3 separate regions of the Homo sapiens genome follow, and regions 1 and 2 are each linked to region 3. Evidence: fine-mapped QTL for protein levels in blood plasma. A gene starts in region 3. Each other region holds a variant in brackets. All regions are shown on one strand. Distances are between the middles of the regions. Region 1 overlaps LUZP2 (leucine zipper protein 2). Region 2 overlaps LUZP2 (leucine zipper protein 2). Region 3 holds the start of LUZP2 (leucine zipper protein 2).

What was found. PIP is the chance, under the fine-mapping model, that this variant and not a neighbour inherited with it causes the effect. Protein levels are from antibody-based Olink assays in UK Biobank. Linkage for the fine-mapping came from a reference panel and not from the study's own genotypes, which makes the PIPs less certain.
Region 1: its variant is fine-mapped to the plasma level of the LUZP2 protein (UK Biobank, PIP 0.99).
Region 2: its variant is fine-mapped to the plasma level of the LUZP2 protein (UK Biobank, PIP above 0.99).

What each region holds. Positions count from the first base shown.
Region 1 is chr11:24,513,199-24,521,391 of GRCh38, forward strand. All of the region lies in intron 1 of LUZP2 (leucine zipper protein 2), which reads left to right. Among named protein-coding and RNA genes, the nearest start is that of LUZP2, 20 kb to the left of the region's middle. The variant T/C (reference allele first, on the strand shown) is at 3,535.
Region 2 is chr11:25,023,570-25,031,762 of GRCh38, forward strand. The region is part of intron 9 of LUZP2 (leucine zipper protein 2); the gene reads left to right. Among named protein-coding and RNA genes, the nearest start is that of LINC02699, 430 kb to the right of the region's middle. The variant T/A (reference allele first, on the strand shown) is at 4,713.
Region 3 is chr11:24,492,288-24,500,480 of GRCh38, forward strand. LUZP2 (leucine zipper protein 2) reads left to right here and starts at 4,766. Exons shown (of 12, transcript NM_001009909.4): 1 at 4,766-5,018. The coding sequence starts at 4,957.

The sequences.
Region 1 (8,193 bases), 21 kb after region 3:
TCCTAAAAATAAAATAATTAAAATTGTATTTGCTGACATGCAAAATAGCTAAAAATTAAGTCCCCCTTGCCTGTTTTTGGATTCACAAAAGACTTGATCATATCTTAGCTAAAAACATCTATATTTGAAAGAAAAGCTACAGAGTCATATGATGGTTAGCCTTCATCCTTTAGCAGTCGTTGGTAAGGTTTTATTTCATTTTTACAATCAGCATCAAGAGAACGATATAGATGAGCTTTATCCTGGGATAATGACTATGTCTTAAACTATTTTCAGATATTATGAAAACATTAAAATATCAATAGCCACTTTAAAATTGTGTTGCTGTTTTGACTGTCTCCTTAAATAATTAGAAGGGTAAATATTCTTTTTGAATATTCTTAGGATCTATATAATACGTGACTCATATGGTTTTTCCTGTGTCTACTTTCTGACTGTCATTACTTATAGCTACAGTAAGTTGCAGGGCCATGCTTTGGGCACTATACTCTGATTCTAAAGCCTGGGGTGTGCCATGGAAAATCAGTCAATGAATTCCATTAATACCAAACAATCACTAAATGCTGGTAGAAATGAATACCTTACTCTTCTGGAAGATCACCACCTTTTGTCTCTCTTTGACCTTTCAGAGTCTGAATGTAGACAGTGTTTATCTCAAAGAAGTGATGAAAAGTTGACAGGCTGGGAAAATAAGAGTTGCCAAACAGAATGCTAATTGGAGGACCACGTAAGCATGGAACGGATTTAATGTTTTGAAGTGTCCAAGTGTAGTGCATTCTGCAAGCATAGTTAGGATTCCCTGGCTATGTTCTATAATAAGAAGCTGATCTGGCTGGGGATACAAGCAGACCTCTGGAAAATAAAATGTCTTAAAGATGAGTGGTACCCCTAAACAGTGCCCATAAACAGAAGCATGTGGCATATCCCTGGCATTCAGCAAGGGGCTGTGGAAGAGGAGTCTTGATTGGTGGGAGAGAAATCCTCCACTGAATGCAGAGAGTAACTAGTTGGTTGTGTGTGTGTGTGTTTTCTTTTCTGGCAATTAAAAATTTCAAGACAAAGTGGCAGAGAAAAAGAGAGAAAGAAATAGATGGTGATGATCAGTCTTTGGTTCCTCATCCATGGTGAAACTGAGAGCATTCTAGCATAAGAATGGTTTCAGAATAAGTAATTTGCTTTACAATTCAGTGATCCTGAACAAATAAACTGTATCCACATCTCAGAGCAGCTGAGAAGGAGAGCAGCCCTGAGGCATTACAGCACAGAATGAGGAAGGTATATTGTAGTATTAAGGGAAAACACATAATAAGATCGTGCCTCTCCTTCTATCAAGCCCACTTGTCAATGGAATGATTATAAATTTCACTTTGTGGGGAATTGCAGGGTACCATCGTCATACAGAACCAACTGAATGGATGTTCTTTGTTTATGTAAATAAACTTTGTTAACATAATTTTCTTAATTTATTAGTTTTTTTTCTTTTGATATTCCCAAGTGTGAGAAAAGAAGGTTATGACAACACAGCAATAAGATTACATGAATCTATTTATCAGGGCAATTGTTAAAAGAATTCTCCCCACTGGTGTTGAAGAAAGAAATATAGTAAGACTTAGTCCTTGAGGTGAGGGCTGTTCTGTAAAAGCGGCCTGGCTCAAGGAAAGCTAAATTCACAAAACTGCTGGTTGGTTCAGGATCAAGCTCTTTAGGGTAGGAGACTTTTTACATGACTTTAGGTCAGAGGTCCTAAAGAGGAGAGTAAATGAATTATTGTTAGTAAGACCAAAGGGTGTGGTGAACAATCGTTGTCATTGAAACCTCTGCTGATTTGAGCTCTTAATGCTTGCAAGTGAAGGACGCTAGAAGGTCTATTATTTACCATTTCCCCGATTTCAGGGCAGAGTTTAGAACCGGAAAGTTCATAATAACTTCTTGGAAATTAACTAAGTCCTCTGATGTAGGAGTTACACAATCATCTAGAATGTTATTTTTATTTTTTCCTGAGGCAGATTATAAAACCGTATACTGTGCCTAGCATGTGTGAGGTAAGAGGAGAGAAGTGGTATTCTAGGAATACTACACATCCTCTGTAACTTACTCTCTTCCTACAGAAGTTTAGTCTACTGAGCTGAAAGACCCCATCTGTAAATGACACTTTTTACAACCAGCAAGAGGGATAACTTGGCAATTGGTTGGTTTATAGCAATTAAGGATATATAAATTAATTCAATTAATATTCACAAAGAACTTGATATCTATCAGGGAATATGCCAGGAAATAATGTTAAGTGCTTGGGAGCCCAGATGCATTAAAGAAAATACATCCTTCATAGAAGGAGAGGGAGACAAAAAGTGCAAAGAGTAAAGTTTCCCAGCTCTGGGAATAGCTGTGTAAGGTGTCACAGAAGTAATGACTTTCCTATGGGTTTCAAAACGTAGACGGAACTTTTTAGCCAAAAATTTTTGCTTGGGAAAACAAATTCCAGGAAGAGAATAGCAATGTGAAAGGTGCTAAAATAAAATAATAATAATGACAGAACTAATCATAGGCTCTCCAGTAGTGAACAAGCACTGACTAATATGTATGTAAAAACAGCAGGCTCTGTGCATCAGGGTGGGTTTACCTCTGTGGTACAACCTGTGCTCCAGAGCTCCCCTAGGGACTGGGTAAAGCTATTCTGCTGGGACCACTTCCTTGCTGAATTTTTTGTCCTGTCATGTTTTTTTTCTTTCTTATGAAAGTTCTCATTTATCCCTGATAAATCAGCTTTCCAAAGGAGGCCCTGATTATGCTCTGCTTCTGTGAAAACTGACCTGAGACAGAGGCTGATCCACCTGGATTTGAATCCCCGTCTTCCACATGACTAGTTATGTGATTTTGGATGGGCTGTTGAAAATTTCTTATAGTAGATTTTTTTTTTCAGTTAAATTGGGAAAATAATCAATCTCGAAGACCTGTTTTGAAGATTAACAGATTAACAGATTTTAAAGACCTGACACTTACACTTGATTAATATATGTTACTTTTCTTTCCTGTTAATTTGTGGAAATGAATGTAAAACCTAAAATTATTTGTATGGAATTTGGATAGGTCTTATATGAATATGAAATTCTATGACCACTTGTCAATCTGAAATAATTGAAATAATCAGAATCCAGTTTTAATGAGTTTATTCAAGTAAAAATCTGGGAATAGCCACCCAGGTTACAGGGACTCCAGAGAAATGGGATAAGTGCTCCAAAGCTAAAAGTTAAAGTTGTGCTTACATAGGAAGAAAACAAAGACATATAACAGGATTACAACATTTTCTACACAAGGCTGATTTATGAGTAACAACATTTTAATTGGTTAAAGTTTGTTTTCTTTTTTGTGTGGCTGGTTTTCTTTACAATTTAAAAGTGTATATTTAACATTCCATCTTAAGACAATATGACAGCATGAAGTTTTTCTGTGAGAAAGGTAAGAGAGAAGTTAATCTAAAATGAAGATCAGCCCTGAAGAGGGAAGAGGTCTTTCCTGGTGCTGTGTAGTCATTTG[T/C]AATATTTTACAAAACAATGTAGGTAAGGAAGAAGGCAAATCTATAATTAGAGAAACAAAAATTACAGTTTTCTAGGTTACAGCTGCCTAGGTAACAGCTGCCTGTTTATGTGACTTATGTCCCATAATCACATTCCCTTAAGGCTATAAAATTTAGTTTCAACAGCTTAGATTGTGAGTTACTTATTTTTACATACTCAAGAAATAAACTCTGTGATACAATCTATGTGCCAAGCTCTCTATGTGGCTTTATTTCCAGGTTTGATAATTTCTTATTACCATCTGTTATTTTTGTCTTTGAACCTTTCCTAATACAAAATACAAAGATTTTTCTTTATCATATTTTTTGTGTTCTAAGTTGAAACATATGCATGAAATCTTATTTGAAATCTTAATTGAAACATGAATAAGATAATCTTATGTCACCTGTCCAAAAAACTATTGCTAAAGGTTAAAAATATTGTAGGTACAGGCCGGGCACGATGGTTCACGCCTGTAACCCCAGCACTTTGGGAGGCCAAGGTGGGCGGATCATGAGGTCAGGAGATCGAGACCATCCTGGCTAACACAGTGAAACCCCGTCTCTACTAAACATACAAAAAGATTAGCTGGGCGTGGTGGCGGGTTCCTGTAGTCCCAGCTACTCGGGAGGCTGAGGCAGGAGAATGGCGTGAACCTGGGAGGCGGAGCTTGCAGTGAGCCAAGATCCCGCCACTGCACTCCAGCCTGGGTGACAGAGCCAGACGCCGTCAAAAAAAAAAAAAAAAAAAAAAAAAAAAAATTGTAGGTACATATTAAATTTTATGTAAGTTTTTTATATTTAAAAAATGTTCTATTTATTTTTTCATATATCTAAATAATGACTCCAAAAACATTAATCACTTCAATGAGGGCATCAGTCACGTCACTGATTATTGTAAATTGTGGAGCCAATAATCCATAGTTTGCTTTCTTAAAAATCCATTTTAGAAGGTTGAATTTATCAGATAGTCTGAAGTGTTAAATGAGAGTTTAATCTTGACTTATTGAAAAATGGCATCATTTTGCTTCCCATGGTTATTTTTATATTGTGTCTGAAGAAAGAAAAATCCTTTTGTGTTTCTCATGTTTATGGTGTATAACAGGCTCTTTTTAATTATAGAAAATTCCTGTCTTTTAATCACTGAGAAAACAATTTTCCTCCCATAAAATAATACATTTTTTCATCATTTGGTTTTTAAAATGACATATTCCAGGGATTATTTTTGAAATATTGGATGCTTATCTAACACTATCCATTAAGTTTCTATTCATGTGGAAAATGAAATGGAAATGTAGGAGAAATTATTTTTTAGAGGGAGGGGATAAAAGGCCTATAATTAATCAGCTGTTATTAATGAATAAGATAACATTGAATTCAAACAAATAAAAAATTAGTTCTTAAGTGTTAGGTATGACCTCATTTAATTAAGTTAGATAATTTATATAAATGAGATAATTTAACTTATTTAAAGCTTAGCTAAGTTAAGAGACTTGCTTCATCTAATCCATGAGTCAATGGTAAAATCAGAATTTAAGCTCAGAGCTGCATGAATCTAACATCTAGGTTCTTATAACTTTAGCCATGTTTGTTAAAGATCTTTGATTATTTTTTTTAATGTCTGATATGCCTATTTTCCCCTTGTAACATTGTATATTTACAGTCTGGGCTAACAAGATAACAAGCTATTTGAGGGTGTTTTATCCTTTCTGTAAGTGTTAAATGAGAAATTTCTTCCTCCTTTTTAAAACGAATGGAAGAGAAACTGTTAAAAATTATTAAAGAGTATAGTTACTGAGTGTCCTTAGTCCATAAATAGTTTTTAGAATGTTAAGATGATAACTGAAATATCAGAAGATGATAGTGGGTTTTTATGCACATTTATTAGGGTTGTTTTCTTCTTGATCTTTTCACTGTTTGTGCCTAGTTCAAAGTTAGTCAATAAACAGAACATGGCTTTGTGACCAAAAATTCTCTGAAAAAGAATTTGGAGGAAAGAAACTTTATTCCAGTGAACAGTTTGCAAACTGGGAAGACTGCATAAAACAAAGGGGCATTCCAGAGAGCAAAGAGAGGGTTCGGCTTTTATAGAGAAAGTTTCTATTCAAGTTCCCAATCAAGTCTATTTATGCAAATGAAGGATTCAAACTTGCTTAGTGCTGATTGATTCACAGAGCTGAGTTCTGATTATTTTGATGCAGATCATACTCTATTTGTTGGTTCAGGTGACGTGAACAAGGACAGTCAGCTATGAAAGTCCCAAGTTAGGTAGACGTGTGGGTTTTCTGGAACTGAGTACATGTGTGAGCTCTAGGTAGCAAATGGCCTTTGGGCTCTATTTTAAACTTAGACACTGTTATCCACTCAGGATTCATGTTGAGGGATTGGCTCTTTCACGTTTACAGTTTCATTACTCAGTTTGCTCTCACAGTCATACCATCCTCTTTATATTTTGACTACAAATCTTATTTTCTACTTTGACTTCAGACCATTAGGATTGTATATAAGGACTGTTAACAGTACCCCTCAACCCAACTTTATCTAGAATGAGTCTTGAGCTTTGGAGACTCCTGTACTTGAATGGAGAATACAGCAGGCCATCTGGAACTGTCTAGGAAATCGGATGTAGTTTTAGGGAGAAAGATAAAGTTTTGAATGTAAGATTCATTCCTTGAGATTTTATTGTTTAGTTATGTTTATAATATTTTGTGCTGAAGTCAATTAAACAATTGAAGAAAATAAGTATGAGATCTCCAGAAATGAAATTGTGTGGTGAACACATTAGAAGAGCAGACCTACTATGTCTTCCTCCAAAACTATCTTAGTGAAAAGTCCTTGGGAAAGGGTTTCGCCTTTCATCCAGGATACAGCTTCAGTGAGGCAGTTCTACACATGTACTGGAATTTGCTGTCTTTTCATGTCTTGGTTAATTTGGAATTTCATTTATTTACTATTTTGATGTGAAGAATTGCACTTCAGATTTTAGTAAATTATTGCCATGTCAATATAGTTGCATTCTAATGATAATATGCATCTTTTTTAAAAAAGGCTTTTTTCAAAATAATTTTGCTTCATGATTAATTTGTGATTGCACATAATTTTCATAATTTTAGTTCAGACAATCTTTAGACATGAAGATACTTGTTGACAGCACAGTACCTTTGTTCCTCTCTAGTAACTCAATATAACAACATCAGCAAATATTGGTATGAGTTACTATTATTAATGATTTATTTTCATAATCTGATTTCTTTTATTTCATTAGTTGCCTTGGGTTTTTGTCTGATTTCAGAAGCTACATAGCTATGTGATTTTTAAAATGGCATAATAAAGCATAAAATCCACAAGATCTTTAGTTTTGGAGAATTTTGAATGGGAGAATTTTGAAGATTGACCTGTGTACCCTTAAAAGGGGAAATCAGGTAGAAAGACAGCTGTCAAGAAGATGCAATGGAATTATTACCAACAGAATTGAATAAAACACATTTTACAAAAAAAGGTTAATATCTACTCTAAAACGCACTAGTGTATGACCGAAAAGCAATATTTGGAAATGGAACTGTTATCAACAGGAAAAACAGGGAAGGATTTAAAAAATGACTGCAATAAATACTTATGTCTGTAGTTGCATTTGGACACCATTTTGAAGGAACCCCTTCCACAGAAACCAGATGTGATTTCTGTTTTTCTGTCTGGAGAAAGCACACATATAATGAAAAGGTTGTATAATTATTGCACTTGTACAGAAGAATCTTCTCATGTAAATTTAAATTTCAATAAGTTGCTGGATTAAACTTTAGCAAGGGAAAGGAAATTGTAAAACGTGGTCTTGTCTTTCATTCACATGTTTGTGTTAGTATGTTAATTATCCTTTTTGGGGGCAGGAGAAGTACAATGAAGCATAGGCCAGCATAAATGCTACTTATACAGGAACCAATACCAGAGCCAGACTAGGCTTAGGAAACCTTAATGGTACATTTAGATAGATAATTGCCATAGCAGTGAAACAGTAGAAACTTATTTTTTGTCAGTGCAAAGCAGGTTTACTAATTACCAGTCCCAAGAGAGGACTCCCATTGCATGGGGAATAGCAAAGATCATCCTTAGGCCAACCACCAAAAACTCAACCAAGGGTTTTCCAGGGTTGCAGACAAGTCAAGAGAGTGGATATGATGCCTCAGTCCGCACCATCATTAGCTCCAGAGGGAAATAGGACAATGCGTGTTTTTAGTTCCCTAGATATGTATTTCTATACTTTAATATTTCTGTGAATGGGTGTTGCCATTTGGTGTAATCTTTTAGGAAAACAGATTGTGTGGCTGGGCGTGGTGGCTCACGCCTGTAATCCCAGCACTTTGGGAGGCCAAGGTGTGCGGATCACCTGAGGTCAGAAGTTTGGGACCAGCTTAGCCAACATGGTAAAACCCCATCTCTACTAGAAATGCAAAAGTTAGTCAGGCATGGTGGCGTGGGCCTGTAATCCCAGCTGCTCAGGAGACTGAAGCAGGAGAATTGCTTGAACCTGGAAGGTGGAGATTACAGTGAGCTGAGATCATGCCATTGCACTTCAGCCTGTGTGACAGAGCGAGACTCCATCTCAAAAAAAAAAAAAAAAAAGGTGGGGGTGGGGTGGGGTAAGA
Region 2 (8,193 bases), 530 kb after region 3:
TTCAAAAAAACCAGCTCCTGGATTCATTGATTTTTTTGAAGGGTTTTTTATGTCTCTATCTCCTTGAGTTCTGCTCTGATCTTAGTTATTTCTTGCCTTCTGCTAGCTTTTGAATGTGTTTGCTCTTGCTTCTCTAGTTATTTTAATTGTGATGTTAGGGTGTCAATTTTAGATCTTTCCTGCTTTCTCTTGTGGGCATTTAGTGCTATACATTGCCCTCTACACACTGCTTTAAATGTGTCCCAGAGATTCTGCTATGTTGTGTCTTTGTTCTCATTGGTTACAAAGAATATCTTTATTTCTGTCTTCATTTCGTTATGTACCCATTAGTCATTCAGGAGCAGGTTGTTCAGTTTCCATGTAGTTGAGTGGTTTTGAGTGAGTTTCTTAATCCTGAGTTCTAGTTTGATTGCACTGTGGTCTGAGAGACAGTTTGTTATAATTTCTGTTCTTTTACATCTGCTGAAGGGTGCTTTACTTCCAACTATGTGGTCAGTTTTGGAGTAAGTGCGATGTGGTGCTGAGAAGAATGTATATTCTGTTGATTTGGGGTGGAGAGTTCTGTAGATGTCTATTAGGTCTGCTTGGTGCAGAGCTGAGTTCAATTCCTGGATATCCTTGTTAACTTTCTGTCTCGTTGATCTGCATTCCCTTTGAAAACTGGCACAAGACAGGGATGCCCTCTCTCACCACTCCTATTCAACGTAGTGTTGGAAGTTCTGGCCAGGGCAATCAGGCAAGAGAAAGCAATAAAGTGTATTCAATTAGGAAATGAGGAAGTCAAATTGTCCCTGTTTGCAGATGACATGATTGTATATTTAGAAAACCCCATCGTCTCAGCCCAAAATCCCCTGAAGCTGATAAGCAACTTCAGCAAAGTCTCAGGATACAAAATCAATGTGCAAAAATCACAAGCATTCCTATACACCAATAACAGACAAACAGAGAGCCAAATCATGAGTGAATTCCCATTTACAATTGCTTCAAAGAGGATAAAATACCTAGGAATCCAACTTACAAAGGATGTGAAGGACCTCTTCAAGGAGAACTACAAACCACTGCTCAACGAAATAAGAGGACACAAACAAATGGAAGAACATTCCATGCTCATGGATAGGAAGAATCAATATTGCGAAAATGGCCAAACTGCCCAAGGTAATTTATAGATTCAATGCCATCCCCGTCAAGCTACCAATGACTTTCTTCACAGAATTGGAAAAAACTACTTTAAAGTTCATATGGAACCAAAAAAGAGCCCGCATCACCAAGTCAATCCTAAGCCATAAGAACAAAGCTGGAGGCATCACGCTACCTGATTTCAAACTATACTACAAGGCTACAATAACCAAAACAGCATGGTACTGGTACCAAAACAGAGATATAGACCAATGGAACAGAACAGAGCCCTCAGAAATAATACCACACATCTACAACCATCTGATCTTTGACAAACCTGAGAAAAACAAGCAATGGGGAAAGGATTCCCTATTTAATAAATGATGCTGGGTAAATTGCCTAGCCATATGTAGAAAGGTGAAATTGGATCCCTTCCTTATACCTTATACAAAAATTAATTCGAGATGGATTAAAGACTTCAATGTTAGACCTAAAACCATAAAAACCCTAGAAGAAAACCTAGGCAATACCATTCAGGTCATAGGCATAGGCAAGGACTTCATGTCTAAAACACCAAAAGCTATGGCAACAAAAGCCAAAATTGACAAATGGGATCTAATTAAACTAAAGAGCTTCTGCACAGCAAAAGAAACTACCATCAGAGTGACAAGCAACCTACAGAATGGGAGAAAATTCTTACAATCTACCCATCTGACAAAGGGCTAATATCCAGAATCTACAAATAATTTAAACAAATTTACAAGAAAAAATCAAACAACCCCATCAACAATTGGGCAAAGGATATGAACAGACACTTCTCAAAAGAAGACATTTATTCACCCAACAGACACATGAAAAAATGCTCATCACTGGTCATCAGAGAAATGCAAATCAAAACCACAATGAGATACCATCTCACACCAGTTAGAATGGCGATCATTAAAAAGTCAGGAAATAACAGGTGCTGGGGAGGATGTGGAGAACTAGGAACACTTTTACACTGTTGATGGGACTGTAAACTAGTTCAACCCTTGTGGAAGACAGTGTGGCAATTCCTCAGGGATCTAGAACTAGAAGTAGCATTTGACCCAGCCATCCCATTACTGGGCATATACCCAAAGGATTATAAATCATGCTGCTATAAAGACACATGCACACGTATGTTTATTGTGGCACTATTCACAATAGCAAAGACTTCGAACCAACCCAAATGTCCATCAGTGATAGACTGGATTAAGAAAATGTGGCACATATACACCATGGAATTCTATGCAGCCATAGAAAGAATGAGTTCATGTCCTTTGTAGGGACATGGATGAAGCTGGAAGCCGTCATTCTGACCAAACTATTGCAAGGACAAAAAACCAAACACTGCATGTTCTCACTCATAGGTGGGAATTGAAGAATGAGAACACTTGGACACAGGGTGGGGAACATGACACACTGGAGCCTGTCATGGGGTAGGGGGAGGGGGGAGGGATAGCATTAGGAGATATACCTAATGTACATAATGAGTTAATGGGTGCAGCACACCAACATGGCACATGTATACATATGTAACAAACCTGCATGTTGTGCACATGTACCCTAGACCTTAAAGTATAATAAAAACATGTAAAAATAAAATAAAATAAGATGAAAAGCAATCATTTGAAGTTATAACAGAAAATTTTGGAATGTATATGAAAATTGAATGCTTAACATTTGGTATTTACAAACTATCCTCTAGAGATAAATTATTAGATTGTGAATACTATTCCTTCTAATATGCTTCAGAGATGCTGTGTTTGGAAAGTAGAGTGTAAGAAATGTAGGTTAAAAGAACTTAAGCTTATTGCCTTAAAATGTGATTATTTTTTTCTAATTAATTTTTACAAATGTCCAGTATTAGCATTGACTAATTAAGGGGTGATTATTTGTGTGGCCTCTATTATTTACTTGCTTTGTTAAATTTGGACAAATTTCTTAAACTCTGGGTTGTAGTTCCCTCATTTTTAAAAGGTAGCATGATTGGTTGCTATGATACAGTGTACACAGTGAACTTATATTTTTCTGACACATGACAAGAGTTCTGTATATAACAACTGTCATTGCTATCCACCCTATCTCCGAGAAAAGAAGAAAAAGTAATTCAGAGGATTTGTTGTACTATTTCACCTTTTTATTTTTTTTATTTTTTTAATTATTATTTTTTTTCTTTCTTTATTTATTTTTTTATTATTATACTTTAAGTTTTAAACCAGTAAAATCTTGACCCTCTCCTAAATTAGATTCACTGTCCCAGATTTTAATTAAACATTTGCCTGTGTTCTTCCATTTGCAAATAATCACCTATGCATACAGATCACAACCATCCACAAACATAATATCAAATGGGTTCCTGAATTATTACAGGATCTTAAATTTTTTAACAATACCATTGTATACAAGCAATATATTTACTGATCATTTCTCAGAAATTATTAGCAAAAGAAAATAAATCATTGCTAAATTAGCTCCTCTAATGTAACAAGGATTTATGTTATTTTGAAATATTATTATACACATTTATTAATAATGGGATAATTCATAATACAGCTTAGTACAGTGATATTTATCTTCAAATCACTTTGGGAGTGCTAATATTCTATTTCTCATGATTAATTTAGAATAATTCTCCTCTTGATTAATAATATGTGTCATCATTTACATTATTTATACTTTATTATCAACTTTATGTTAGTTAAAAATTAAGTTTAGAAGCACCCATAAACTTCTTCATTGTTCTTTTCTCTGCCTTCATAGTTTTTATTTTTAGTCTATATAAAATTTTAACTGAATCATCTGGCCATTGCTGAAGTTACCAGTACGAACTCTATCAGTTATTATTTCTACAGCTGTTGCAATGTTAAAAATTAGCATTTAGGTCGGGCACAGTGGCTCATGCCTGTAATCCCAGCACTTTGGGAGGCCAAAGCAGGTGGATCACGAAGTCAGGAGGTCAAGATCAGCCTGGCCAAGATGGTGAAACCCCATCTCTACTAAAAATAAAAAAATTAGCCGGGCGTGGTGGTGGGTGCCTGTTAATCCCAGCAACTCGGGAGGCTGAGGCAGAGAATTGCTTGAACCCGGGAGGCAGAGGTTGCAGTGAGCTGAGATCACGCCACTGCACTCCAGCCTGGGCGAAAGAACGAAATTCCGTCTCAAAAAAAAAAAAAAAGGTGTTTAGATTTAGATACCATCAATGTTTTCCATTGGCTAGTGGATAAAATCTAAGTTCCCCAGTTCGGAGTTCAAATCTATCAACTAGTATTTGATATAATATACTTTCCGTCTATTGGAACTTGCTACGTGGAGAATATTCATATCCCAGTTTTAACTTTTGATTTATTTTTAATTAATTTTTAATTTGGGGGTACTAGTAGGTGTGTATACTTATAGGTTATACGAGACATTTTGATACAAGCATACAATGCGTAATAGTCACATCAGGGTAAATGGAGTATTCATCATTTCAAGCATTTATCCTTTCTTTGTGTTAATAAACATTCCAGTTATAGTCTTTCATTTATTTTTAAATGTGCAATAAATTATTGTCGACTGTAATCACCCTGTTG[T/A]GCTATCAAATACTAGCTCTTATTCGTTATATTTAACTATATTTTTATACCCATTTCTCATCCCCACTCCCCATGTCCATTACCCTTCCCAGCTTATGGGAACCATCATTCTGAGTGTCCATCAACAGACAAATGGATGAAGAAAATGTGGTGTATATAATAATGAAGGATCATTCAGCCATAAAAAAGAATGAGATTTTTTCATCTGTAACAGCATAGAACTGAAGAACATTATGTTAAGTGAAATAAACTGAGCACAGAAAGACCATCTTTGCACGTTCTCATTTATTTCTGGGAGCTAAAAATTAAAACAATTGAACTCTATGTACTATTTTTAATTAGAAAGTAGAATCGTGTACCATTTTTTATTTCAGTAGAGTAGAATTATGTACCATTTTTAATTTGCATGTTTTTTTTTTTTACTTTCTTTCCATTTTATATTGTTTGATCTGTCTCATTTGAAAATCCAGTTCATCCATAAGATAGTCCTAGGGTCTAGTTTCTAGCCTCAATTCCTCTGTCATATTCCTAAAATTTTTCTTGACTATAATTAATCTTGTTCTTACACACAGTATTTTATATTCTTTAAATCATTTTGCTTATTTGGAAACAAACTATACTATATTAGGCAAAAGGCAAAAGCTAAACAAAAGGCAACAAAGAACTTAAAAGATCATTAAGTGAAATAAGCCAGGCACGGAAAGACAAGCATCACATGTTCTCACATATTTGTGGGATCTAAAAATCAAACAATTGAACTCATGGACATAGAGAGTAGAAAAATGGCTACCAGAGGCTGGGAAGGGTAGTGGGGACCTGGTGGGTAGGAGGAGATGGTTAATGGCTACAAAAAGAAAATAGAAAGAATAAATAAGACCTACTATTTGATAGCACAAGAGGGTGACTATACTCAATAATAACTTAACATATTTAAATAAAGGGTGTAAGAGGATTGTTTGTTACTCGAAGGATAAATGCTTGAGGAGATGGGAACCTTATTCTCCATGATGTGCTTAGTTCACATTGCATGCCTGAATCAAAACATCTCATGTACTCCATAAATATGTACATCTACTAGGTACCCACACAATTTTTAAAAATAAATTTAGAAGAAATAAAAAACAATACTTCAAATATGAACACTCTTTAAAAAAGAAATAAAGAATGTGTAATCGGCTGGGTGCAGTGGCTCACACCTGTAATCCCAGTACTTTGGGAGGCAAGGCAGGCAGATTACTTGAGATCAGTAGCTCAAGCCCAGCCTGGCCAACATGGTGAAACCCCATCTCTGCTAAAATTACAAAAATTAGCCTTGCATGGTGGTGGGCACCTGTAATCCCAGCTACTTGGGAGGCTGAGGCAGGAGAATCATTTGAACCCGGGAGGCGGAGGTTGCAATGAGCCAAGATTTAGCCACTGCCCTCCAGCCTGGATTACAGAGAGAGACTCTGTCTCAAAAAAAAAAAAAAAAGTATAATTATTTCAAGAAGGAAAAAAGTACCTTACATTTTATTTTTTCTCTCATAAAATTTGCTTTACATATACACATTTTTACAGGATACTATTGTATATGTTGTTTTGTGATACATTTTATTTTATAGAAGTATAAACAATTGCCATGTCAATAGATATATTTTGTAACTACCAAGTAATTATTTTTTATTTTTATGTAAGGTGTGTACATAACATAATAAAACAAGCACACATAGATTTACCAACCAACATAACCACATGATTTGGGGCATTATTAAGATTACTGACATTAGATGGGTATTCATGCAAAATGCTTGTCCTAAATTTTGTGTTTATCGTTCCCAACCTTTGTGTGTTTGCATATTTGTGTGCATTTTCTCCCATATACATTTGTCTTTAAGAAATATGGCTAGTATTGATTATTCTGAATTTTATAGAATCAGTAATATTCTCTAATTTTTGGAACTCACATTTTTCACTGAATATTTATTTCAAGGATATCTTTGTTACTGGTAGTTGTAGTTCAATTAATTCTCATTAACAAATTAAAGTATGAGATAATACTGTAATTTATTTCTCTATTCTCCTATTGATAGAAAGGATAATTCAGCTTTTGCTCTTATTAGCAATGCAGCTAAAACCATTCTGTTTCATATCTCTACAAACATAGCCTAGAATATAGAACTAGAAGTGAGTTGTAAGATCAAAGGCCAAGTGTCTATCAACATTAAAGAATATTGACAATTCTTTTTCCAAAAATAGTTATTTAAAATTTATTTATATAAATATTGTGGATGACCACTCTTATTCCATTCCATGTACTCACCAATACTTGTTACTTTAAGCCTTAAATTTTGCTGATCTGCTATAGCATTGTAGCTCACTGGGTCTTAAGTTGCATTTTCTTAATTACATAAGAGATAAAACCATCATTTCCTAATTTAATACATAATTTGTTTTCCTCATTTTGAGATATGACTATGTATTTACCATTTTCTTATTTAAATTTTTTCATTTACCTATTGCTTTATAAGTATTATTTACAAATTCTAAATACTAATCTTTTGATTTGCAAAAAGCTACTCACAATTTGTATGTGTAGCGTGTGTTTGTGTATATGTGTGTTACTATATATATTATATATATATATAATATATATTGTATTATATATATATAATATATATTATATATATTATATATATAATACAATATATATTATATATATATAATACAATATATATTATATATATATATATATATATTTTTTTTTTTTTTTGAGACAGAGTCTCACTCTGTTACCCAGGCTGGAGTGCAGTGGTGTGATCTCATCTCATGCAACCTCCACCTCCCGAATTCAAGCGATTCTTTGGCCTCAGCCTCCTGAGTAGCTGGGACTACAGGCACGTGCCACCACACCTGGCTAATTTTTGTGTTTTTAGTAGAAATGGGGTGTCACCATATTGGCCAGGCTGCTCTCGAACTCCTGACCTTGTGATCCACCTGCCTCGGCATCCCAAAGTGCTGGTATTACAGGCGTGAGCCACCATGCCCAGACTACTGTATTTTTGATACCGTTTGATAAATAGGTTTCCACTATTTCTTCAGTAAATATTGCAAAATTATATTTTTCTTGAAATTTCTCAATTGCTTATGTGTTTTCCAATGGATTTAAAGTTTATGTGGTGTTGCCTTTATGTCTTTTAAACTTCAGCTGCAAACATTTTATGCCAAATTTCTCATTCCAAATAGCTTATTTGTGCCTATCAATATTGCTTGAAAGATGTGTATTATATTGTTTTCAAATTGTTAATTTTTCTGTTTATACTTTTCATTCTAATTTTGTTTTCTATTCCCACAATTTGTGTCCCTCTCTTTACTATCAGCATTTTCTAATTTATTTGAGTTGTTTTCCCAGCTTTTAAATTTTTTTTTGCCTTTTGTTTTTCTTTGATATGGGCATTTAGAAATTATACATCTTCCTACAAAGGGTTACCTTAGCTACATTCCT
Region 3 (8,193 bases):
TTAGATAGATTATACAAGGGGAATAGTTTTGAGGAAAATCCATCTTAAAGTAAAAAGTACACTCCGAATCAAGAGATGGTTACCTCTAATTAAAGCCCAGATGACAGGTGTCATATAGAGGTGGGACAATTGTTATAAATAAATACTTAGGAAGTGAAATCTCTAGGGCTTGGTGATTGACTATATGTGGGAGAAGGTGGAGGTAAAAGCAATAGACAACTCTCAGGTTTAAACTTGGGTGACTGAGTTGATGGAAGTATAAGGAGATATACCGAAGAAGGGTCAGACAGAGGAAGAATGAGTAAGTGTTCAATGTGATTGAATTTGACTTTGAGGTATTCATATAGAACCCAGGTAAAGTCTCAGCGAGGAAGTCTAGGCTGGGGTAAATTTTAAGATCCATACCATAGTGAAGATTGTAAAAACCATAAAAAATAATAAGTTCAACTTGGGAAGAAAATATAGAATTTTAAAAGAGGAGGATCAAGGATGAAACACTAGGGGACATGAGAGTTTAGAATATGAGGGCAGAAAACAGAACAGAAATAAGAAAAAATGTATTACTGTGTGAAGAATGAAATAAGAGGGGCATTAAATTGTGGAAACATAACCTTTCTAACAAATATTGCTAGGAGAACTTGATACCCACATGCAAACAATGGAGCTGAGCCCCTCCTTCACAAATACACAAAAGTTGGATTCACAGACCTATCTTTAAGATCTAAAACAATAAAAATCTTAGAAGAAAACAAAGGCATACATATTCATAACCTAGTGTGAGGCAAAGCTGTCTTAGATACAACCTCAGGAGTATAATCATAACATTCAAAGTAGGTGAATTGAACTTTATCAAAATTAAAAATATTTGTGGTGCAAATGACACCAACAGGAAAGTGAAAAGAAAATCCATGGATTAGGAAACATTTGCAAATCACATATCTAAGGGGGATTTGTACCCATTATATAGACAGAACTCTTACTAGGCAAAAATAAAACTCAAAAATTAATTGAAAAAATAATTTAATAAATGTATCTTCAAAAATGTGTATGAATAGCTAGTACGCACATGAAAATATGTTGATAGTGATTATCAGATAAATGCCTATAAAAATGAGATAAGACTTCACATCAGCTAAGATGGCTATAATAATAAAAGGATAGATAAATAATTGCAACTAACAAGTTTAAGGTTGTAAAGAAATCGATACCTTCATATATTACTAATGAAAATGTAAAATGGTGCAGCTATCTTGAACAAGAGTTTGGCAGTTTCTCAAAATGTTAAATGTAGAGTTACCATATGATCCAGGAATTCCACTTCTAGGTATATATCCAAGAGAACTGAAAACAGATGTTCACACAGAAACTTTTATGTGAATGATCATAGCAGAGTTTTTCATAATAGCGAAAGTATGAAAACAACCATAATATCCATTAACTGATGGATGGATAAACAAAATGTGGTATACCCTTACAATGGAATATTATTCAGCAATAAAAAGAAATTAAGTAACGATATATGCTATAATACAGATGAACTTTAAAACATGAATGTGAAAGAGAGTAGTTATATGAAACCAGATACAGTATGATTTAATTTATATGAAATGTCAAGATTTGGGTCAATCCATAAAGAGAGAAATTAGATTGGTGTCTGTGGGGGTTCAGGAGAAGGGATAAAGTGGGGACCAGTGAGTGATTACTCGTAGGTACAGGATTTCTTCTGGGCATGATGAAAATGTTCTGGAATTATATAACGATGATGATTTCATAATCTTATGGATGTGTATAAAAGCACTAAATTACACACTTTAAAATGGTGAAGTTCTTAGTACCTGAATTAAATCTCAATAAAGCTGTTTTTAAAACAGCTTCTATATCTCCTAATCCTAGCACTTTATAGAGACTCAGCACAACTGCTTGGGTTTTCTTGATGTTCTTTTTCAGACTTGGGTACAGTTACCACAAACAATGCTTGCTGACTCCAGTGTTAGGACTCAGCATAGGATAAGTAGTTTAAGATAAGTGAATTGCTATCTGTACTAATGTATCTTTAAAATTCATCTACCAATTCTCCAAAGCCACAAAATTTATTCTGAATTTAGGTTTTTATGTGACAATGTGGACAGAATGTCATGGGTGATGGAGATTCCTGGTTTTGTAATTTTCCTAGAAGAAAAGACTTCTGCTGAGAGACACATCTGTACTTGAATTCAAAATAATACTTCAATTCTCTACATCTGTGGGAGTTTCCAGAATCTTACTTATACCTTTCAAGATGTACTCCCCTACTATGTTGCTCTCATGCCCTTCCAAGTTAGATGTCTTTTGGAGAGATTTTTTTTTTTTTCTTTTTGGCTTGCAGTAAATGCACAAAGGCCAACAAACTTTGTGGTTCTTTATAGATATCCAATATAGATACAGTGTAAAGAAAGTTCATTCTGACTTTTTTATTCATTGATATTAGATAATTTGGTTGTTGTTTTATGTTATATGTCTAGTTGAAAGTAAAAAAAACTTAGGTTGGGGAAAGTTTTTTCTTACATGTGTATAATGTTTTTCTCTCAAATAAGCATACATTTTGAAGTAATGCAGACTGAATTTGAATGCCATCGCCACTATATAAGTCTCTGAGTGACCTTGAGCAAGTTACTTAACTACTCTGAAACTGTCACCTTAACTGGAAAAGAGAAAAATACTAGAAATAACTACCACATTTGGTTTCTATGATTAGGACGTAAGATAATGGATGCAAAGTTGTTATATAAAAAATGTATTCTACAAATATGAGTGTTATTTCCTGGTGCACACATTAAAAAAATTGCCAAGTAGCCTTATGTCTTTGTTGAGTATACAACTCAAGTAATCTCCTTCAAAGTGAGCAGGGAATCTATGTTAGAAAACCCTGGCAGGAGCAAACCAGAGTTTTTATTTTACTTGGAATCAGAGTTCTGTTTTAGAAAAGTGTGGTGTCGTTTTTTTCTCTTAAATGATATGCAATTCACATGTTAGTTTATTTGTATATGCCTACTTATTAGGCATATACAAGATCGATAATGTTGTGGATCTTATTATTATTGCCCAAGGGGCTAATATTCACTTTTCAAAACTTATTACTCATCTAGTTCAGCAGCTCAAGATTTTGAAGCAAATCTGTTTTACATACATGTCTTAACCTTCAATCCCATTTAAAAAAAATAGTAAATTAGATGGTTAACCTTTTAGATTTGCATCCTCTTTAAAATAAAGCTTTACAGCAAATGCATTTTTCCTACAAATGTCTTCGAAAATGAGATTGAAGAGGATGTATCATCTAAATTTTTCTGTAAAGAGCTTGCCCCCGAAATAATTGGAACATGAACTGAAACCTCTAGATAGGAATTCCTGGACACAGCTGTCCATTATCTTTCGGGACTTTGGTGCACCTCACCCTTTACTGAACACAACTTTGTGTCAAACACTGGGCTAGGAGTGCTAGTTGTGATGTTTGAGGCAACAGTGGAATTTTTCTTAGGACTTAGTAGAACCAGTTCTTTTTTTTAATATGCATAGTCAGATTTTGATGATATTCAGTCTGCTCATATCTATAATAGTGATATTAACGTCTATTTCACTAGGATGGCTCTTGTGAAGATTAAATTAAATACTGTATGAAGAAGTGCCTTATACACAGTTATATAACCAGGATAATATCCAGATGGAATTCTCATTCTCTCTCTCTCTCTCTCTCTCACTCTCACTCACACACACACACACACACACACACACACACACACACATGCAATATCATCTTATAAATATCCTAGAATTGAATATCTCAGTAGCAGAGATAGTAGTTCTGTTTCTCAGAATTGCTTTTGCAAAATGGTGTTTTGGATTATAATTGTGCTATTTAATTTTTCTAATTAAAATTTCTAAATAGAGCCTATTAAATATTGGATGCTTATGATAGAACATTTGAAAATATAGAAAACCAAATGACCTACAAAACCTCTACCTTCCAGTACCATCATTCCGAGCTGATTACTGTTAACATTTTAATGGTTTTTGTCCGCTAGGTCTCCTTGATGAGTTTCACCTGAGGAAAAGGACTCCTTCAGGTGTGTGAACTTGAGCCACCAGGTCCAACCCCATTGGCAGGTGCTGGTACAGACGACTGAAATCAGAGGAAGATCAGAAATCTTCAAAACCCAGAGCAGCAGATGTCTTAACGGTCCCGAAACGTTCTTTGGTTCTTTGCAGTCAACATTCACGGGTTAAGAAGATTGCAATGCCATGACGGGCTGAGGTTGCATTTCTGGACGCTGCTTACTCCCGCTTCCTTCCATCTGTTTCAGGCAAATCATTATGCAGTTCTAATTAGAACAATCTTCTAAACACTCTCTCCAGAGCGACGTTCTTCCAAACACGGTTTAAGCGGCGAGAGACACCTGCCTAGGACCCTACGCGTCTGGAAGTCTCTCCCAGTGAATTGGGTCTCATCTCCTGCCGAGTACGCAAGTTCAATTATCGGCAGATTAGGTTTCTACTCTCCGTGCCCCGCCCCGCGCCATCCTGGGGAGCAGCGGGAATAAATGATCCGCCCCTGGCCAGTGCTCACCCGACTGACCAGAGCGCAGCCCGGTGACCGAAGCGCACGGGGCGATCGCGAGGCGCCCCCTCCCTCTCCCCGCGCCGCCTCCAGCGCGAGTGACGGCGCGCCCTCCGGGCTCCGGAGCGGCGGCGCCGAACAATCCCCGGCAGGGCTCGCCTCGCCGGTGACATCACTCCTGAAGATACTCCTCGCTCCCAGCGCCTGCCTTCCCCAGGCGTCCGTTCGTGTGCCCGTCTCCGCCTTTCCGCCTCGGAAGAGCGCTCATCACTGGCTGGGGACAGAGCCGGGCACCAAGGAGCGACAGGATCCCGAAGAGAGAGAGAGAAGGCAGCGAGGGAAGGAGGACCCCGGCAGGCAGCAGCATGAAATTCAGCCCAGCGCACTACCTGCTGCCTCTCCTGCCTGCGCTGGTCCTCAGCACCAGGTGAGTCCAGGAGCGTGAGTGACCTGAGGCCAGGGGCGCTGCCGGGGCGAGGTTGGTCCTACTGTGGGTCACCAGTGGGGGCCAAGGCACTTCAGCTGTTTGCATCTCCCGCCTAAGCAAGAGGGACGCTGTATGGTTTGGGCTCTGAAATCCTTCTGAGAGAGCAGAGCCCTTTCCTAGTTATCCCAGCCCCCTGGAGAAAGTCTTAGGATTGCTCTCAGTGAGGGATCAAAAGCTTTCTCTTCCGAAGGAGAGAAAAGACATTTTACCCTCCGGTCCTATTAGTAGCCAAAAGGTAACACGCGGTAAAAGAACAAAATAAAGAACGGAAATAGGCAAGGAGGGAATTGCCACCAGGCAGTGTCTTTACATTGGAGTTGTCTTAATAACCATAGAGCTTCTCCCTTCCCCCAAGTGTGCCTGATTTAAGGAAGAGGAAACCAGAGAAAACAGATTAATCCTGGAAGATGCTAAGACTTGTACAAAAGTTCCTGGACTCCTGAAATGGCATGTTTCAACGTCTTGGATAAGCTTAGTGATAGGCGTTTTCTTTTGACTGTCTTGTGAACAGGTCTAATTAAAGAGCACAGAAGGCGATTAAAAGTTAGAAGACACTCTCAGAGTGCTGATGCAGAGACCCTAGTCAGAAACAATTAAGTACTGTACTCCATCACTGGCCATGGATGGGACTTTAAGCCCCATTACAGAGGAGCTATTTTTGGTGGAGATTTAAAATGCAGAGATTGAGAAGAGTTTTGTGACTCCCCACTGTTGATCAAGTCCCAAAGTTGTGATGGGTTTGCTTTTTTCTTCCACAAGCGCAGCACAAAGGTGGACTGTTTAGTTGCCCAGGACTGTCTTTATTCTGCATGCCCTTAGCATCATATTGGCAGCAACCTCTTTCCCTTGGCTACTATAAAATAAAATAACCCACACAGGATGAAGATCCTTTCAAGTCTACGTGAATAGAAACATTATTTGATTGTGCATCTGATGGCAAATAAAGTAGGGATATAGGGTTGTTTCTAATTCTGAAATGGAAAAGGATGAAGAAAACTTACTCTGTCTTACAAATCAAGGCTGTAAAATTCTTGATTCCGTTCCTAATCTACACACCTTCTTTCAGGCCTGTGTAACCAAACTTTCCTTTTAGTGTAGAGACTATTTCATTTACCCTCAATAATTGATAAATTTAGTCTTTCCTTGCAAACAAAGCCCAGGTGACTTTCCCAGATTAAAATGAAATGTAAGTTTGATTCTTCATTTTCTGTAAGGTTTGCTTGTCACTTCAGCTCATAAAGTGCAGATGGTTTTAAAGAAAACCAGTTTGCTTCCCAGTATTATAATTAGTTGCTCTAAATACAGAGCCCATTTTAATATTTGTGGTTAGCTCTCAACAGTTCAATACAAATTATGCATCACAGTTATTCTTTAAATTCTTGCCATTCACTCTTATGTTGTGATTTAGTCTTCTAGAGAAAGGAAATTTTCTAACTTTGGACACTTAAGTAGATGACAGTCAACACATGCATAAATAATAGGAAATATTTAAACAATAGAAATCCAGCCCACAGTGATTTTAGACTGTGAACATCTCTAGAGTTCCAAAAGTACATTTGCTTTTTAAGGATACTATAATTAAATTGAATGAAAAAGCTCTATAGTCTCTAGCGTCCAAAGATTTAATGTTCGATATCTAATACAGGGTCAAAAAGCCATTATCTTTTCCTTTCATGAAAGTGTTGATTTTGATAGGGATAAATTTCTTTAAAAATAGTTAACACACTTATTACAACAAAAACTGGAATAATCATCTATTTCACTTTAGCTTTGAAACTTCTGCAATGCTTGTGGTATGTGAAAACTATGGTTATTAAATTTTACCAGAAGAGAATGCTGGGCTTGAAAAAGATGAAATATTTATAATAAGTAGCATATCTTATTAATGTGATTACTCTGTAGGAATTCATTTTACTGGATACCCAGAATACCCTGTGATATTGAACAAATATGAAAAGCAATGCGGTACTATCAGTGTCATTTTGCAAAGAAGAGAATATGTTTTAAAGATCTCTAACAGAAGGCCATTCTGTGTATAATATTTAACAGTTCTTATAGGCACATGGTTATTGTGCAGATTAGAACCTAAACTGAGCAGCTTTGAAAGGACAGTTGTGTTAGTAGGGATGAGCTTATTGTCCTGCTGGGAAAAGCTGAGTAGCTCAGCCATGGCCACCTGGGACAGTGGGTTTTCTGGCCAAAGACTTCTGTTAACTTAGTTTCTTAGTCAGTAGTCCTGTATGTGAAGCAAATGGTATTTCACATGTTTAGATCACGCTGGATGCATTAGCAGGTGGTGGTAATTGCTAGTTTTTCCTATAGCCTTTGGGTAATCTCACCTGTCTTTTATTGTCAAACTCTTTCCAAAGTGTAGGGAATGCAGAGCGGAGACTCTTAATGCAAATATATATATATATTTGTTTCATTATATCTTTCTCTGAGTGCATTGCCTTAATACTTTGCTATTTTATTTCCAATAGGTCTGAAGTTCAGTTCTATTTTAAAGTAATCTGTTCAGTGAAACAAATGCTGCAGGTGAAAAGGTAGTCTTTTGACTGTGTTGTGAACAGGTCTAATGGTATCTAGCCCACAGCGACTATCCTGTCTTTTAAACAGAAATTTTTGAATAGAAAACAATCCTGCCTTTTAAATAGACATTTTTGAATAGCTTTCTCTTTTTGCTTGTTCCTCCTTCTCACCTTTTCTGAAGCAACTTTAGATGCTGAAGCACAAAATCCCATAATTTAATCACAGTGAACATCAATGGCCCCCAATCAGAGTTAATGTATTTGTCCTGAAAGAAAGCTAAATGTTCAATTTACACAAAAGCCAAGCATTTTTCTCTGTTTTACTGGTAAACCCCATAGAGTTTTAAAAAACGAACAAAGAAAAAGAGCTGTTTAATGTCCTGGCATATGGTCTCTCCTGCTTAGAAAATGCATATAAATTACCAAAAAAAATCAAGTTAATGATATGAATAATGTAACTAATACAGAAACTCATTTAAACTGTACACAAATAAATGTGATCAAAGAAAGCAAACATGTTGGTTTAATAGCTTTGGAGTAGAATGACTATACTTTTAAGATAGCCTTGTTGTATAGTATTAAATTGC